Homo sapiens: one gene and its partner. The protein of the gene in region 2 purifies or fractionates together with the protein of the main gene of each other region. This does not show direct contact. Each region holds a gene or a part of one and is shown on either strand. Other genes may lie near its edges.

Region 1 (3,683 bases), on a different chromosome or scaffold from region 2:
GCCATCTCACTGCATCCCAACTCACCTCTCATTTCAGTTGTTTTCTCCCACTCCTATGTCCTCCCAGGTATATCAATTTTTCAGCTGCCTCCCAGAGGACAAGGTCCCCTACGTCAACAGTCCTGGGGAGAAATACAGGATCAAGCAGCTGCTGCACCAGCTGCCCCCACACGACAGTGAGGTGAGGAGAGAGAAGACAGGAAGGGCATGCCAGGCACAGCACACAGCCTGGGCCAATGCAGGGCAGGGTCAGAGGAGGAAAGGTGAGCTGATCTGAGGTGAGTGGTCCAGACAGGCAGGGGTCATCAGGGGACATTCCTTGGCAAAACCACAGCTGGGCCTTGGAAGAAGAGGTGGTTACTTCAGGCAGGAGGCACCATCTATAGAAAGACCTAGAAGTAAACTTTCGGGGCATGGATGAAGTCTGGAAGAGGGGCAGGGACAGGCATCAAGGGAGGAGCCTGGGAGATGCCTTCTCCTCCCAGGCACAGTACTGCACAGCACTGGAAGAGGAGGAAAAGAAAGAGCTCCGAGCCTTTAGCCAGCAGCGGAAGCGGGAGAATCTGGGGCGTGGCATCGTGCGCATCTTCCCGGTGACCATCACTGGGGCCATCTGTGAGGAGGTGAGCCGTGGAGGGCCTCAGCGAGTGAGCAGTGCCTCTGCTCCAAGCCCTGGGGAGCAGGACACATCTTCCAAGCACTGGGAAGATGAGGCCTGCCACTTAAGCCCCAGTGAGGTGTCTCTAGGGTCCCCTCTTGTGGGCGGGGTCTGTTCCTCACATCTCACTGTTGGGCAGGGACTGTCTCTAAGGCAACCCCTGGTGGACAGGGACCTGTCCCATCAATCCCACTGTCGTGTGGGGTTTGTCTGTAAGGAGGCCTTAGTGTGTTTTTCTCCCCGTCTGTGCAGTGGACATGGGGCATGGGCTATCTCTTTGGTCCTCCTGTGGTCAGAACTTGTCCTCAAGAGCTGACCCACAGTGGCAGGGCCTGTCTGCAGGGCCCAGTGGTAAGCAGGGCCTGTCCTTAGATCCTACTGTTAGGTGAGATCTATTGCTAAGGTCCCGGTGGGTGGAGACTATCTCTGTGGTTTCCCCCACTAGGCCTGGCCTGTCTGTCTTCCCCACCCCTGATGAGGGAGGCTTGCCTATAAGGCCACCCACCATGGGTAGGGCCTGTCTCTACGGCTTCCCTCATGAGCAGGGTCAGTCTCTAAGGTACCGCCCAACCCCATCCCTGGTATAGGCAGGGCCTGTGTCAAAGTTACCCCATGGGTGGGGCTGATCACAAAGTTTCACTGTGGGAAAGGCCCAAGTGTAACATACTTTGGCTGACCCCATCCATCTGACCATCTTGGTGACAGTGATGGTAACCATCTTGGTGCTTGTCTCATGGCAGTGCGGAAAGCAGATTGGAGGTGGGGACATCGCAGTGTTTGCCAGCCGTGCAGGCCTGGGTGCCTGCTGGCACCCACAGTGCTTCGTGTGTACCACGTGCCAGGAACTGCTGGTTGACCTCATCTACTTCTACCATGTTGGCAAGGTCTACTGCGGGCGTCACCATGCCGAATGCCTGCGTCCACGCTGCCAAGCCTGTGACGAGGTTTGGGCCTCCCTGCCCAGGGGTGGGAGTTGAGGGTGGGCAGGGCCAGGAGCAGGCTCATCTGACAGCCACAGATGGCCTGCGCCCTCCAGATCATCTTCTCCCCTGAGTGCACGGAGGCTGAGGGCCGCCACTGGCACATGGATCACTTCTGCTGCTTTGAGTGTGAAGCTTCACTAGGAGGGCAGCGCTATGTCATGCGTCAGAGCCGCCCCCACTGCTGCGCCTGCTACGAGGCCCGCCACGCGGAGTACTGTGATGGCTGTGGGGAGCACATCGGTGGGTGAATGCTGTGGGACTGGACAGAGGGATGGATGGACAGCTGGGCCACAGTCCTACCCCACCAGGACTCCTCCTGTCCTCCAGGCCCCATCCTCCATTGTGCCCTGTACTTTGTCCAGCCCCAACACTATAGACCTGTACGCTTGGTTGCAAGTCCCACTCCCAATGTCCCCACTATGCCATGCTTTCTAAACCCCACCTAACACAATGCTAGGCCACCACCACATGTCTACACCCACCTCCAGAGGGTGCTCTAATTCCAGCCCCAGGGCTCGCCCTACTCCTAGCCTCTACCACCCCAAGCTGTGCCCCGTTCTCCTCCACTCTCCTGTATCAGCCTAAGTCAGGCCTAGCTTCTAGCTACACCCTATCCTCTGAGAACCACTCCTTTCTCAACAGGGCCACTCCCCACCTGCTAAGCCCTGCCCCCACCAGCCAGGCCTCCTCTTCAGGCCCAGCTTTCCATTCTCCTTCCACTTGGAGCCACCCCCTAATGTCTAAGCCTGGCCCGAATCTTAGAGTCCAATGCCCACCCCGCTCTGGGAGAGAGCACCCTGGGAAAGAAAGGGAGGAGTGAGAGAGAGGTTCACCAGCCAGTCTCCAGGAGAGAACCAAAACCTGTTTCCTGCTTTCTCCAAAAGGGCCCCATTCTGGAGGAGGGAGGAAGGCACCCAGGGGTGCCCTGCCTCGGATTCCCCACCTCTTCTTGAGAAGGGACTCGTTCACGAGGGGTGGGGTTACGCCTGGGGGTTCTGCCTCAGTTTTTCCCCCTCGTCGTTCCCCACAGGCCTGGACCAAGGCCAGATGGCTTACGAGGGCCAGCACTGGCATGCCTCAGACCGCTGCTTCTGCTGTAGTCGCTGTGGGCGGGCCCTGCTGGGCCGCCCATTCCTGCCACGCCGAGGCCTAATCTTCTGCTCTCGAGCCTGCAGCCTTGGGTCCGAGCCCACAGCTCCAGGGCCGAGCCGCCGCAGCTGGAGTGCCGGCCCTGTCACAGCCCCACTTGCAGCCTCCACAGCCTCTTTCTCTGCTGTGAAGGGGGCATCAGAGACCACCACCAAAGGCACCAGCACAGAGTTAGCGCCAGGTGAGCTAACCCTCTAGCCACACCCAGCCACAGCCCAGTCACCCCTATGTCCTTGCCCCTGCCTCAGCCCTGGCCCTTCCTTCTTGACTAGCCCAGGCCCTTCACCTGCTGTATCCCTGGGCCCCGCCCATTTCTCAGCTCATCCTCCTTCCCCACACCAGTCCAGGCCTGGTTTCCATCCCAAACTACACCCGCCTCATGAACCCTGGTTCCACCCTGTCAATACAGGGCTGGTCCCCTACCTCAACTTGTCTCTGCTTGACCCCAAGTTCCTCTTCCTCTTCTCCAGCCGGTCACCCTTCATCCTCTGCAGTCAGGCCCCACCCCTTTTATTGCAAACCAAATCTACTCCAGCCTATGCCACACCTCTTCCATCCGAAGCCACCCCGGGTGCCCTGGCCACGCCCCCCACACCAGTCCCATCTTGCTCCGTGTTCTTCCTTCCAACCCTCTCAACACCCAGAGCCTGCTCCAGGCCTCACACTTCCCAGACTTCCCACCTCCCTGCCATTCTCCGACCCCTGCCCCCACTTTCCCAGTCTTAGTGGAGGAAAGAAGGCCCTTCCGCAGGCCTCCTCTTAGGAGGGGGCCAGTGGGAGGGCAGATACAAGGAGTCACTCTGTCTCCCCCTTAACAGCTACAGGCCCTGAGGAGCCCTCCCGCTTTCTGAGAGGGGCTCCCCACCGCCACTCCATGCCGGAACTGGGGCTCC
Region 2 (5,508 bases):
TGACAGAGGTGGTGGTGAGGCTGCGTCTGGGAGCAGAGCATCAGGGAGATGGGATGGGAGCTGGAGAGGGCTTTGTGTGTGTCGATGAACTGGGTCTCTTGCGTGCCGAGTGGTCACCATGCCCGGAGGGCCGGCCCCACGCTGGTGGCAGGGGTGAGGGACAGAGCAGTCCTCGGGGTGGGCTAGCACTGGGTGGGGGTAGGGGTGGGGGTCCTAGGCCTGGGAGCCCAGAAAGGGGAGGGATGGTCAGGGACTCTCCCTGCGTGGGGGACCGACAGGCTTGAGTCTTCAATGATGAGTAGAAAACCACCAAGCACAGAAGGGTGAAAGGCTGGGTGGGGGCACACAGCACAGAGGGGGAGAGGCTGGGTGGGGCACAGAGGGGGAGAGGCTGGGTGGGGCACAGAGGGGGAGAGGCTGGGTGGGGCACAGAGGGGGAGAGGCTGGGTGGGGCACAGAGGGGGAGAGGCTGGGTGGGGGCACAGAGGGGGAGAGGCTGGGTGGGGGCACAGAGGGGGAGAGGCTGGGTGGGGCACAGAGGGGGAGAGGCTGGGTGGGGCACAGGGGGGAGAGGCTGGGTGGGGCACAGAGGGGGAGAGGCTGGGTGGGGCACAGAGGGGGAGAGGCTGGGTGGGGCACAGGGGGGAGAGGCTGGGTGGGGGCACAGAGGGGGAGAGGCTGGGTGGGGCACAGGGGGGGGAGAGGCTGGGTGGGGCACAGAGGGGGAGAGGCTGGGTGGGGCACAGAGGGGGAGAGGCTGGGTGGGGCACAGGGGGGAGAGGCTGGGTGGGGCACAGAGGGGGAGAGGCTGGGTGGGGCACAGAGGGGGAGAGGCTGGGTGGGGGCACAGAGGGGGAGAGGCTGGGTGGGGCACAGGGGGGAGAGGCTGGGTGGGGCACAGGGGGGAGAGGCTGGGTGGGGCACAGAGGGGGAGAGGCTGGGTGGGGCACAGAGGGGGAGAGGCTGGGTGGGGGCACAGAGGGGGAGAGGCTGGGTGGGGCACAGGGGGGAGAGGCTGGGTGGGGCACACGGGGGAGAGGCTGGGTGGGGCACAGAGGGGGAGAGGCTGGGTGGGGCACAGAGGGGGAGAGGCTGGGTGGGGGCACAGAGGGGGAGAGGCTGGGTGGAGGCACGGGGGGGGAGAGGCTGGGTGGGGCACGGAGGGGGAGAGGCTGGGTGGGGCACGGAGGGGGAGAGGCTGGGTGGGGGCACAGAGGGGGAGAGGCTGGGTGGGGCACAGAGGGGGAGAGGCTGGGTGGGGCACACAGGGGGAGAGGCTGGGTGGGGCACAGAGGGGGAGAGGCTGGAAATTCAGCTCCTTTGGCGACGTACGAGGAATTCCTGAAGGCAGCAGCCTGGGGAATACTCCAGTTATAACCATTATTTTGTTGTGAGGGTTGGAACAGCCTATTTTGAAGTTATTTCTCATGAGAGGTTGGGGCTGGAAGCGTCTGTATCACCTAGGGTGCAGTTTTAGCTGCTAGGAATTGGAAACCAAGCCAAAACGACTTAGTACTAAGGAAACTTACTGTTTCAAGTAACAAGAAGCCTGGACACAGAGTGGATTCCAAGGCTGCTAAGTTCAGAGGCTCGACAGCCACATCAAAGGCCCACCTTTCAGTTCATCTGCCCTCAGATGGCAGGCCTCATGGTCACAAGAAGGCTGCCTGGGCTCTGGACATTACCGACGGGCCCCACAGGGACAGGAACAGGAGACGCGGTCTCTTCCTTGTGTCTCCTTTTGAGAGAGGGAATCCATAGCTAGATGCCCCTGCAGGTTCCCGTCAGGTCTCCTTCCTAAACCAATCCTGGGAGGTCCTGAGTGAGCCGTGACCACCAGGACTGAGTCCTGATCCCAGCGCAAGCCCAGGTGACCAGCATTGGAGACGGCGCACGGGTTAGAATGTGGACCGTGGGGAATGTGACGGACGCTCTCCTGTTGCCGCGGCCACCACAGACACATTTGGGTGCCGGGAGAGTGAGGCCGCGGGGGCTGGGAAGGGACCGGTGTATGGGGGACAGCAGGCGAAGGTCACTCGGGAACCAGCCCAGCTCTGAGGCTGCGGGCAGGTCGGAAAGGGAGCAGGACGGCGACCCCCGTGGCCTCCAGAGCTCTGTGTACGAGAGCCGGCGGGTCACAGACCCCGAACGCCAGGACCTGGACAATGCAGAGCTGGGACCAGAAGACCCAGAAGAGGAGCTTCCCCCCGAGGAGGTGGCCGGGGAGGAGTTCCCGGAGACCCTGGATCCCAAAGAGGCACTTTCTGAGTTGGAGAGAGTCCTGGACAAGGACTTGGAAGAGGACATTCCTGAAATCAGGTGGGCACCGGGGAACGGGCCTGCCTGGGTGCGGTGGGGTAGGGCTCAGCCCCTGGCAGTGGGGGGAGGGCAGCAGCCCCCTGGGCGGGCGAAAGGGTCGTAACCGGCCACCGGCCTGGCTCGCTGCTCCCGAGGGGCCCGGCCCTGCCGAGTCAGCCTAGGTGTGGGCTTGGTCGGTTGGCGGCCAGCACCCCTCACTGGGCCCTGAGGCAGACACCAGCAGACGCTCCCCTATCTGGTGGCAGGAGGAGGAGTAAACAGCGCTGAGTTTGGAGTCAGGCAGACTGAGTTCAGGTGCCCAGAGTTCAGAGTTTAGCGAGTGATGGCCTCAAGTCAGACAGAGAGAATAAGAAATGGGAAAAAAAAAGCCTCCCAACTCAAAAGTTGAAACCATTCTAAGCACCACACGTGGCTAAAAGGTTTTAAATGGTCGGGAGGAACACGTTCTGGGTGAACTGACGCTTCGGCCAATCAGCACTGGGGGCGCTGATTTTGGGCAGTTGCTGGAGTGTCCCCAGCAAGGCGCGCACTCTACATACCTCTGGGACTCGGCTCCCGTCCTCCCTGCAGCGTGGTCCCTGCACGTGCCCGACCTGCCCCCTTCTCACCGTGGTTTCCGTGCCGCCCAGGGAGGTTTGCCGCCCAAGAACAAAGTGGCTGCCCTGCCCTCATGGGGCTCTGCCAACCTGCAGAGAAAACAGCAGGAGTGTGAGGGGATTCTGGGGAGAACGTGGGAGCCAGCAGCTGCATCAAGCAAGGACAGGGCAGATATCCTGGCATTTGGCATCTTCACCTGCTGCCTGTTTCCCTCCCACAGTCTGTGAGCTTTCTGGGAGGCAGGAGCCGCTCTCTTTAGAGGGTGGTTGCCCCTCTGGGGCCTGGCATACAGTAAGCACTTGACAGATGTCTGTGAGATGAGTAAACACTACCTTAGTACTCACCAAAACAGCCCCGCCAGGTGGGAGCTGGTCTCACCTCCAATTCACAGAGGAGGAAGCTGAGGACCAGGGGAGACAGGTGACCTGGACGGGTCTTCCATCCAGCGAGCAGTGGAGCTGCGGTTGGTCCAGGCCTTCGTGGTGCCAAAGTCCTCCCTCAGAGACCCCTCGAGGGAAAGGAGAGGCGGGTGGGCAGGGTGAGTGCAGACAAAAGGCGCTTGAGCAAGACCCACGCTTCTCTGGGCTCCCAAACGCATCGGGGCGGGAAAGCAGCTCCAACTTCAACGTGGAATTCTCCCAAAGCCGGCTGTCCATCAGCCAGAAGCTCCCCAGCACCACCATGACCAAAGCAAGGAAGAGGAGGAGGCGGAGGAGGCTCATGGAGCTGGCAGAGCCCAAGATAAACTGGCAAGTCCTGAAAGACAGGTGAGGACACGCCAGACCACGGCCTCGTAGGGGCAGCGTGGGCGGCTTTCTCTGCACCCTTCCCGGGCTCCTCCTGTCCCCACTGCTCGGCTCCCCTCCCCCAGCTGCCACCACATCCAGCAAACTTAGGGTAGGTGGGGTTGGCCAGTTAAGGAGGTGGCCAGACACTGGGAGTGGCTAGGGAACGGTGGCCCTCTGGGCGGTGGCCAAAGGAGAGTGAGGAGTTTGGGAGCAAACGGGAGACCCAGGGCAAGAGGCAGTGGGGCTCGGACCCTGTCTCCTCGCAGGAAGGGACGCTGTGGTAAGGGGTATGCCTGGATCTCCCCATGTAAGATGAGCTTGCACTTCTGTCTCTGCTGGTAAGTCCAGGGCTGTCTCCGCCGTGTGCCTATGCTGGGGGACACGTGTCAGGTTCCAGGGGACCCCTTCACTCCAGCCACCCTCCTCTCTCCAGGGAGGAGGATCAGGGAGGGCTCCTCAGATGTGGGGCTCTCCACCCTTGTGACCTGGGTCTGCTCCCAGGAGGTGGCCCTGGGCCCTCTTCTTAGCTATGCTTCTCCCCCAGCTACCTCCTTCTCTGGACATCAGCCTTGCTCACAATAATCCACGCGTCCCGCCGGCCCCCCCACTGTCCTTCTCTGGCCTACCCCCTCTCCCAGCAACTCCACACCCCACCTCGGCCACCCTCCTGGCAGAGACCCAGGCTTGTTTCCGGGCAGGGCCAGGGCTCTCTGCCTCCCTTGCCCTGAGCCGTCCGCTTATTCCAGGCCCTCTGTGTACTGGACCGAGCGGTTCCTTGAGGACACCACCCTCACCATCACAGTGCCCGGTAGGTGGAGCCCGTGCCTGCTGAGACCCCTGCCCCCGGCTGCCGGCCTCCAGGGAACCTGCCCCGCCCCATCTAGATACTTCTGGCCTCCCTTGCCCCATCTCCTCGGAGCCTCTGTCCTCCCCACTGGAGTCTGTCCCCTGAGGAGCTAGAGCTGAGACTGGTCCTGGGGGTGAGGGGCATGGGGAACACTCTCTAGGATAGGGCCAAATCGGGGCAAGAATTTACAAAAAGACCCTTTGCTTTCCCTTCCACAATGATTTCCATGCTTTTCTTGAGAGGAATTTGGTATTGAGGTATCATAGATACCTTCAAATGAGACACTTCGAGAGTTCCCCATAGAGGAGAATAACAGTCCAGTTCTCTCCTGTGCTGTTCTTGACTTTAGACCTACAGTCATCACTAGGCCCCTGGAAACCCCAGGCTTGTACTAACTTCAGAACAAAACCCATTTTCCCAGCCTGTGGGTCCCTGGATCTGTATTGAGCCCCGTTGAGGAGCCACGGTGCTGGGCTGCTGTTCCAGCCCTGCCACTCCCATCCGGTGTCCGAGAAAGGACCTTCAAGCCTCTGAGCCCATTGTCCCTAAATCAGGGACAGCAAATCTTCTCTCTGCAGGGTGTCTGGCCCCCAGTTGTCTCTGCCCACAGTTCTTCCAATTCAGCCTCCTGCCCAAGCTCATGAAAAGCTGAATTCCGCATGCAGAAGCCCCTGGGAACTGCAGGGTGTTGACACTGGGGTTCACTGACTCCGTTTCCCATTTTGCATAGCGGTGTCCCGCCGCGTGGAGGAACTGTCTCGGCCCAAGAGATTCTACCTGGAATATTACAACAACAACAGGTGGGGGAAGGAGGGCTGGGTGGCTACTCAGAAGGCAGAGTTTGGCAGAAATGCCTTATTCTCGCCTGACAGGATGCTGTGTGGGAAAGGGTCCAGGTCCTAGCCCTAGACAGCTGGTGTTCAGACGGGGCTGGCCTGCTTCCCAGCCCACATCCCC

The links. The genes of interacting proteins can lie anywhere in the genome.
Region 1: the proteins of SPMAP2 (region 2) and PRICKLE3 purify together in Homo sapiens (affinity purification with mass spectrometry; one large-scale study listed by BioGRID and IntAct). This does not show direct contact.

Annotation. Positions count from the first base shown.
Region 1 is NC_000023.11:49,176,191-49,179,873, reverse strand, and holds part of PRICKLE3 (prickle planar cell polarity protein 3), read left to right. Parts: intron 1-67; coding exon 68-181; intron 182-485; coding exon 486-623; intron 624-1,398; coding exon 1,399-1,602; intron 1,603-1,694; coding exon 1,695-1,881; intron 1,882-2,671; coding exon 2,672-2,971; intron 2,972-3,608; coding exon 3,609-3,683. UniProt on the Homo sapiens protein: Involved in the planar cell polarity (PCP) pathway that is essential for the polarization of epithelial cells during morphogenetic processes, including gastrulation and neurulation.
Region 2 is NC_000019.10:372,474-377,981, reverse strand, and holds the start of SPMAP2 (sperm microtubule associated protein 2), read left to right. Parts: upstream 1-1,955; 5' UTR 1,956-2,011; coding exon 2,012-2,319; intron 2,320-3,560; coding exon 3,561-3,683; intron 3,684-3,970; coding exon 3,971-4,042; intron 4,043-4,450; coding exon 4,451-4,512; intron 4,513-5,281; coding exon 5,282-5,351; intron 5,352-5,508. UniProt on the Homo sapiens protein: May be involved (but not essential) in spermatogenesis.